2 linked regions of the Homo sapiens genome follow. The protein of the gene in region 2 purifies or fractionates together with the protein of the main gene of each other region. This does not show direct contact. Each region holds a gene or a part of one and is shown on either strand. Other genes may lie near its edges.

The links. Proteins that work in one complex are often made in the same cells at the same time.
Region 1: the proteins of ZXDB (region 2) and SETD1A purify together in Homo sapiens (affinity purification with mass spectrometry; one large-scale study listed by BioGRID and IntAct). This does not show direct contact.

Annotation. Positions count from the first base shown.
Region 1 is NC_000016.10:30,974,754-30,978,253, forward strand, and holds part of SETD1A (histone-lysine N-methyltransferase SETD1A), read left to right. Parts: intron 1-3,500. UniProt on the Homo sapiens protein: Histone methyltransferase that catalyzes methyl group transfer from S-adenosyl-L-methionine to the epsilon-amino group of 'Lys-4' of histone H3 (H3K4) via a non-processive mechanism.
Region 2 is NC_000023.11:57,590,866-57,594,810, forward strand, and holds the start of ZXDB (zinc finger X-linked protein ZXDB), read left to right. Parts: upstream 1-1,145; 5' UTR 1,146-1,183; coding exon 1,184-3,595; 3' UTR 3,596-3,945. UniProt on the Homo sapiens protein: Cooperates with CIITA to promote transcription of MHC class I and MHC class II genes.

The DNA of each region.
Region 1 (3,500 bases), on a different chromosome or scaffold from region 2:
CCCAGCACTTTGGGAGGCTGAGGTGGGCAGATCACTTGACGTCAGGAGTTCGAGACCAGTCTAGCCAACATGGTGAAACCCCATCTTAACTAAAAATACAAAAATTAGGCTGGGTGCGGTGGCTCACGCCTGTAATCCCAGCACTTGGGAGGGCTGAGGCGGGCAGATCACGAGGTCAAGAGATCAAGACCATCCTGGCCAGCACCAACATGGTGAAACCCCATCTCTACTAAAAATACAAAAACTAGCTGGGCATAGTGGCACATGCCTGTAATCCCAGCTACTCGGGAGGCTGAGGCAGGAGTAATCGCTTGAACCGGGGAAGCAGAAGTAGCCATGAGCCGAGATCGTGCCACTGCACTCCAGCCTGGTGACAGAGCGAGACTGTCTCCAAAAAAAAAAAAAAATTAGCCATGCATGCTGGCAGGCGCCTGTAATCCCAGCTGCTCAGGAGCCTGAGGCAGGAGAATCACCTGAACCTGGGAGGTGGAGGTTGCGGTGAGCCGAAATTGTACCACTGCACTCCAGCCTGGGCGACAGAGCGAGACTTCGTCTCAAAAAAAAGAATTGGGGGTTGTGATATCAGCTCCCATGTGTCAAGTACCTATGTGTGCCAGGCTCTAGGCATAGCATGTTGACAATTCATTTTCTCATTGAATCCCCACAACCTCTCCCTTTTTTTTTTTTTTTTTTTTGAGATGGAGTCTCATTGTGTTACCCAGCCGGGAGTGCAGTGGTGCAATCTCGGCTCACTGCAACCTCCGCTTCCCGGGTTCATGTGATTCTCCTGCCTCAGCTTCCCAAGCAGCTGGGATTACAGGTGCACACTGCCACGCCTGGCTAATTTTCGTATTTTTAGTTGAGACAGGGTCTCACCATGTTGCCCAGGCTGGTCTCAAACCCCTGACCTCAAGTTATCAGCCCACTTTGGCCTCCCAAAGTACTGGGATTACAGGTGTGAGCCACTGCGCTTGCCCCACAACCTCCCTGTGATTCCCATTTTATAGATGAGGGCTTCAAGGCTTAGTGAGATGCAGGAACAAACTAAGGTTACCAGCCAGAGCTGGAGGGAGAGCAAGAAGAGAGGGCAGGGTTGAGGGAGGGGTTAGCTTTTCCAAGTAGATGAGGTTTGGGCATGTTCCACTGAAGGGAACGGGCCAGGTAGATGTGCCGGGAGAGAGGAATGCTTGCTGGCATGGCCTTTTTGGGGAGGTGGAGGAGTAGCTTCCAGATCTGATGCAGTTATACCCTTCGGTGGGGAGGCAGGGAGATGGGGGTGTTGTGCCTGAGTCCTCTTTTGACCCTGTTGCTGTAGGACTGTGAGAGGAAGAGTGGAGTAAGAACCTTGGAAAGTGGAGAAAAGTTGCTCCAGTCCAGGCGCGGTGGCTCACACATGTAATCCCAGCACTTTGGGAGGCCGAGGCAGGAGGATCTCTTGAGCCCAGAAGTTCGAGACCAGTCTGGCTAACAACAACAACAAAAAAAGCCAGGCATAGTGGCACATGCCTGTGGTCCCAGCTTCTGGGGAGGCTGAGTCGGGAGGATTGCTTGAGCCTAGGAGGTTGAGGAGGCTGCAGTAAACAGTGATTGTGCCGCTGCACTGTATCCTGGAGACAGAGCAAGCCTCTCGCCTGGGCCTCCCCATGCTGGAAGGCCTTGCCAGAGCTGGGGCCTGGGAGTGAGGGGAGAAGAGGCTGCTGGCTGGCTCCACAGGGTAAAGGTGTGGTGGAATGATGAGGACCTGGGGCTGTGCTGGGACAGGAGAGGGCAAAGTACGGGCCCTGGGGTCTGGGCAGGGTGGAGGAGGAAGTTGGGAAGAGGGTGATGTGCTAGAGGGAAACTGAAGGATGGGAAGTTGAAGGTGCAGTGGGGCAGACTGAATGGACAGTGGGGAATGTTGGAGAGGATGGGGAATCTCCAAGGCGGAGCCATTCTGGGATTGACAAGGCCAGGTGTGTGGCTGCTTGAGGGGAGCTGAGGGTGATTGAAGGGGATCACTGGAGATGCAAGAATCCAGGTAAACAGGCGTGATTGCCAAGTCCCCTGGGGAGGTGGCAGAGGTGGAAGAGGAGAGGAAGATGCAGGCAGCCCCTTGGTGTCTGGATAGTGAGAGGGCACGACAAGGGAGTCTGAGTTACCGAGGACAGAGGAGCCGTGGCTCAGAGCAAGGGGTGCTTAGTGAAGGCTCACTGTGTTTCTTCTCTTTTTTTTTTGAGATGGAGTCTCGCTTTGTCACCAGGCTGGAATGCAGTGGTGCCATCTCGACTTACTGCATCCTCAGCCTCCCAGGTTCAAGTGATTCTCCTGCCTCAGCCTCCCGAGTAGGTGGGACTAAGGCACGCGCCATCACGCCCGCTAATTTTTGTATTTTTAGTAGAGACGGGATTTCACCATGTTGGTCAGGATGGTCTCGATCTCTTGACCTCATGGTCCACCCGCCTCGGCCTCCCAAAGTGCTGGGATTACAGGCGTGAGCCCCCTCGCCCGGCCAGCTCACCGAGTTTCTAATAACCAGAACCAGTTTCAGTCACCACCGTCTTAGTGATTGCCGCCTGGGGATGTTAGTGATGGCCCTGGGGAGGGGCAGGTTATGCAGTAGGAACTGGCTTCTGGGGCCTCGCCCCATGGACCTGAGCGTGGCAGTAGAGCAGTTCTCAGAGGAAGGTGGTGGGAGTCATATTGACTGGGCAGGTGCCCCCAAAAGTTGTCTCCTAAATGAGAGGGATGGGCAGGTTCCCTTTGGGACAGTCGCAGAGGGAAGTGTGTGTGCAGCAGCTGTGCTGGTGGAGGAGTGTGTTCTTCGAGCGAGGCTTCCCGAGGACATGCATGCTGAAGCGTGAGGTGGTCTGTAGGGGGCGCTGCCCCAGCGTGGTGGGGAGGAAGGTGAGAGGAGGCCTGCATGCATCTGGGTCCTCACTGGCTTCCTGGAGTGGGTTGCTGCCACAGGCTGAGACCCCAGCGGGTGTCTAGAGCCTAAGGTGCAGCCAAGAGCCTGGCTCAGGGCGCCAGGGTTGGGAGTGCGGTGGACTCAGGTGAATCGCTGCCTCCTAGGGCCGGGCCTGGTGCCGGCGGCCCTGTTGGCGCTGAGCGGGGAAGCCAGTTGTGAAGCCAGTGAGTCCGTGGGCTGCAGTTCAGAGCATGAGCTCAACCCACATGGCCTGGGAGCAGAGCTTGTTCTGTCATCTGGTAACTGACCACATCTCTGTGCCTCAGTTTTCCTGTCTGTAAGATAGGACCCTCTGCTGGGTACAGTGGCTCACGCCTGTAACCCCAGCACTTTGGGAGGCCGAGGCGGGCAGATCACGAGGTCAAGAGATCGAGACCATCCTGGCCAACATGGTGAAACCCTGCTTCTACTAAAAATACAAAACTTAGCTGGGTGTGGTGGTGCATGCCTGTAGTCCCAGCTACTCGGGAGGCTGAGGCAGGAGAATCGCTTGAACCCGGGAGGCGGAGGTTGCAGTAAGCCGAGATTGCGCCACTGCACTCCCACCTGGCGA
Region 2 (3,945 bases):
TCTTATCTCAGATATTTCACCCTATATTTGTGTCAATTCCCAACTCAGTCGTAACGGACAAAATGAAGGATTGTCATCATCATTAATAAGATCATTAGGCACCACAGGCCCAGCAAGCCTGGGCCACCACACTTAAATGTGAACAGGTACACCAGGTTGATTGGACAAGATCGTCTGTGCCTTTTACTTGGCAGAATCCATTGCAGTGACTCAGGATTTAACCTAAACACATTTAACTGAAACTCCTGCCCAGAGACCTCCACGTGCTGGAGAAGGCAGAGTAAACTGAGGAATGAATGCCCTCATTGTGCTGTGAGAGCAGACATGAAATTTATCACAGTACAACCGATGGTGGAAGGGCAAAAGTTGGTTTAGGTTGTGCACTGTATAGGGAGAAGCCAGGAGAAGGTTGGGTTTTTTCCAGATTTCAGTGTAAATTGTTTCATCCTCCAGACTTTGAATTTCTAGGCTGAAGAGTGCTAACCTGTTTTGGCCGCATCTCTCACTCATTCTAATGTCTGTATCAGCAAGACAAAATTTGAACTATGCGGCAAATTGTACCGAAGACTTTGCTCAAGATAATTGTGAATATGGAAGTTGTCCCGCGGGGAGGTGGGAAGGGGAAGGACATTTTCAGCAGAACTGCCAGCGCTATGGTGGTTTAATGCTGACACAGAGACAGTTTTTTCTCTCAGGAATTGTCTTTCATCCATCAGTCCAGCCAGCCAGCCAGCCAGCAAATTTTAACACACAGAAAGTACGAAGCAACATATCTAACACTGGGAGGGGCTGGGGTGTGTTTATTTGGGTATATACAATGAGTCATGGATTAAAATTGCTTCCAGCGGATAGATACCTAGGTGTTCCACAGCATTACTGAACAAGCTGTCGTCATTTCCCCATTACCTCAGAAGACCCCCTTAATTACTTACTTATATTAACTGTAGAACGTATTTATGCATACCAGGCTCTACCTCTGGGCTTTCTATTCTGTTCCAGAGACCCAGTACCAGAATATTTAAATCACTGTGGCGTTAAATACGTTTTAATATCTGATAGGGCCAGTTTCTGCGCATTGCACATTTTTTTTTCCCCTTTCAGGAACGTGTTCAGGCCCGCGGCAGGGGGCGGGATCGCGCCTCCTCCTCGGCTCTGGTTCCAGCCGAGCCTCTCGGACGCAGAGATGGAAATCCCGAAGCTGCTCCCGGCTCGCGGGACACTACAGGGCGGCGGCGGCGGCGGTATCCCCGCGGGTGGCGGCCGAGTCCACCGAGGCCCTGACTCGCCGGCTGGCCAGGTCCCCACGCGCCGCCTCCTGCTGCTCCGGGGCCCCCAAGATGGCGGGCCCGGGCGGCGGCGCGAGGAGGCCAGCACGGCATCACGGGGCCCTGGCCCAAGCCTGTTGGCGCCGAGGACCGATCAACCTAGCGGCGGCGGCGGCGGCGGCGGCGACGACTTCTTCCTGGTGCTGCTTGACCCGGTGGGTGGCGACGTGGAGACCGCGGGCTCCGGTCAGGCCGCAGGGCCTGTGTTGAGGGAGGAGGCCGAGGAGGGCCCGGGGCTCCAGGGGGGCGAGAGCGGCGCGAATCCCGCGGGGCCCACTGCGCTAGGCCCCCGCTGCCTGTCCGCGGTTCCCACTCCGGCCCCGATCTCCGCCCCCGGCCCCGCCGCGGCCTTCGCGGGCACAGTCACTATCCACAACCAGGACCTGCTGTTGCGCTTTGAGAACGGCGTCCTCACCCTGGCCACGCCCCCACCACACGCCTGGGAGCCAGGGGCCGCTCCTGCCCAGCAGCCCGGGTGTCTGATCGCCCCGCAAGCTGGGTTCCCGCATGCCGCGCACCCGGGTGACTGCCCAGAGCTGCCGCCAGACCTCCTGCTAGCTGAGCCGGCCGAACCCGCGCCAGCTCCGGCGCCTGAGGAGGAGGCGGAGGGCCCGGCCGCCGCCCTGGGCCCCCGCGGACCGCTGGGCTCCGGCCCAGGCGTGGTGCTGTACTTGTGCCCCGAGGCGCAGTGCGGGCAAACCTTCGCCAAGAAGCACCAGCTGAAGGTGCACCTGCTGACGCACAGCAGCAGCCAGGGCCAGAGGCCCTTCAAATGCCCCCTGGGTGGCTGCGGCTGGACCTTCACCACCTCTTACAAGCTCAAGAGGCACCTGCAGTCGCACGACAAACTGCGGCCCTTTGGCTGCCCGGCAGAGGGCTGTGGCAAGAGCTTCACCACAGTGTACAACCTCAAGGCGCACATGAAGGGCCATGAGCAGGAGAACTCATTCAAATGCGAGGTGTGCGAGGAGAGCTTCCCCACGCAGGCCAAACTCAGCGCCCACCAGCGCAGCCACTTCGAACCGGAGAGGCCTTACCAGTGCGCGTTTTCTGGCTGCAAGAAGACATTTATCACAGTGAGTGCTCTGTTTTCCCATAACCGCGCCCATTTCAGGGAACAGGAACTGTTTTCCTGCTCTTTTCCTGGCTGCAGCAAACAATATGACAAGGCTTGTAGGCTGAAAATTCACCTGCGGAGTCACACCGGCGAGAGACCTTTCCTTTGTGACTTTGATGGCTGTGGCTGGAACTTCACTAGCATGTCCAAACTCTTAAGGCACAAAAGAAAGCACGACGATGACCGGAGGTTCATGTGCCCTGTGGAAGGCTGTGGGAAATCTTTCACGAGGGCGGAACATCTGAAAGGCCACAGCATAACCCACCTGGGCACAAAGCCTTTCGTGTGTCCTGTGGCAGGCTGCTGTGCCAGGTTCTCTGCTCGCAGTAGCCTCTACATTCACTCCAAGAAACACCTGCAGGATGTGGACACTTGGAAAAGCCGTTGCCCGATCTCCTCTTGTAATAAACTCTTCACATCCAAGCACAGCATGAAGACGCACATGGTTAAAAGGCATAAGGTGGGCCAGGATCTCTTAGCTCAGCTAGAAGCAGCAAATTCTCTCACACCCAGCAGTGAACTTACCAGCCAGAGACAGAATGATCTCAGTGATGCAGAGATAGTGTCTCTCTTCTCTGATGTACCTGACAGTACTTCTGCTGCATTGCTGGACACAGCATTGGTGAACTCTGGAATCTTGACTATTGATGTGGCTTCTGTGAGCTCGACTCTGGCAGGGCACCTCCCTGCTAATAATAATAATTCCGTAGGGCAGGCTGTGGACCCTCCGTCCTTGATGGCCACCAGCGACCCTCCTCAAAGTCTGGATACCTCTCTCTTTTTTGGAACGGCGGCCACTGGTTTTCAGCAGAGCTCCTTAAATATGGATGAGGTCTCAAGTGTAAGTGTGGGGCCATTGGGATCTCTGGACTCTTTGGCCATGAAAAACTCCAGTCCAGAGCCTCAGGCTTTGACACCCAGCAGTAAGCTAACAGTGGACACAGATGCTCTGACTCCTTCGAGCACCCTTTGTGAAAACAGTGTCTCAGAACTACTGACACCAACCAAAGCGGAGTGGAACGTACATCCTGACTCTGACTTCTTTGGACAGGAGGGAGAAACCCAGTTTGGATTCCCCAATGCAGCAGGAAACCATGGTTCTCAGAAAGAAACAGATCTTATCACTGTGACTGGCAGCTCATTTTTGGTATGAACCAACTCTATTCATTCCTCATCATGTGGCTTACTTTTATTACAGTCAATTTTGAGGATATTCTGGACTAAATATTTAAGTGCAGTCATTTCTTTTTGGTTTGCAAAAAGAGCACAGCCCTGGACTACAAGTTTGGAGATTTAAATTCTGATCTTGAGTTTGGAACTGACAAGTTGTGTGACCCTGAGCAAGTCAGTTAACCTATCTGAGCCTTAATTTCCTTATTTATAAATTGAGGTGGTTTGAATAGATTGCTTTTAAGGTCTTTCTGCTCTGTGATTCCTTGATAATACATTTCTTTCCTTGAAAAATATGAGGACGTTTTTCAGTGATGTGGCATGCGTTTTTTT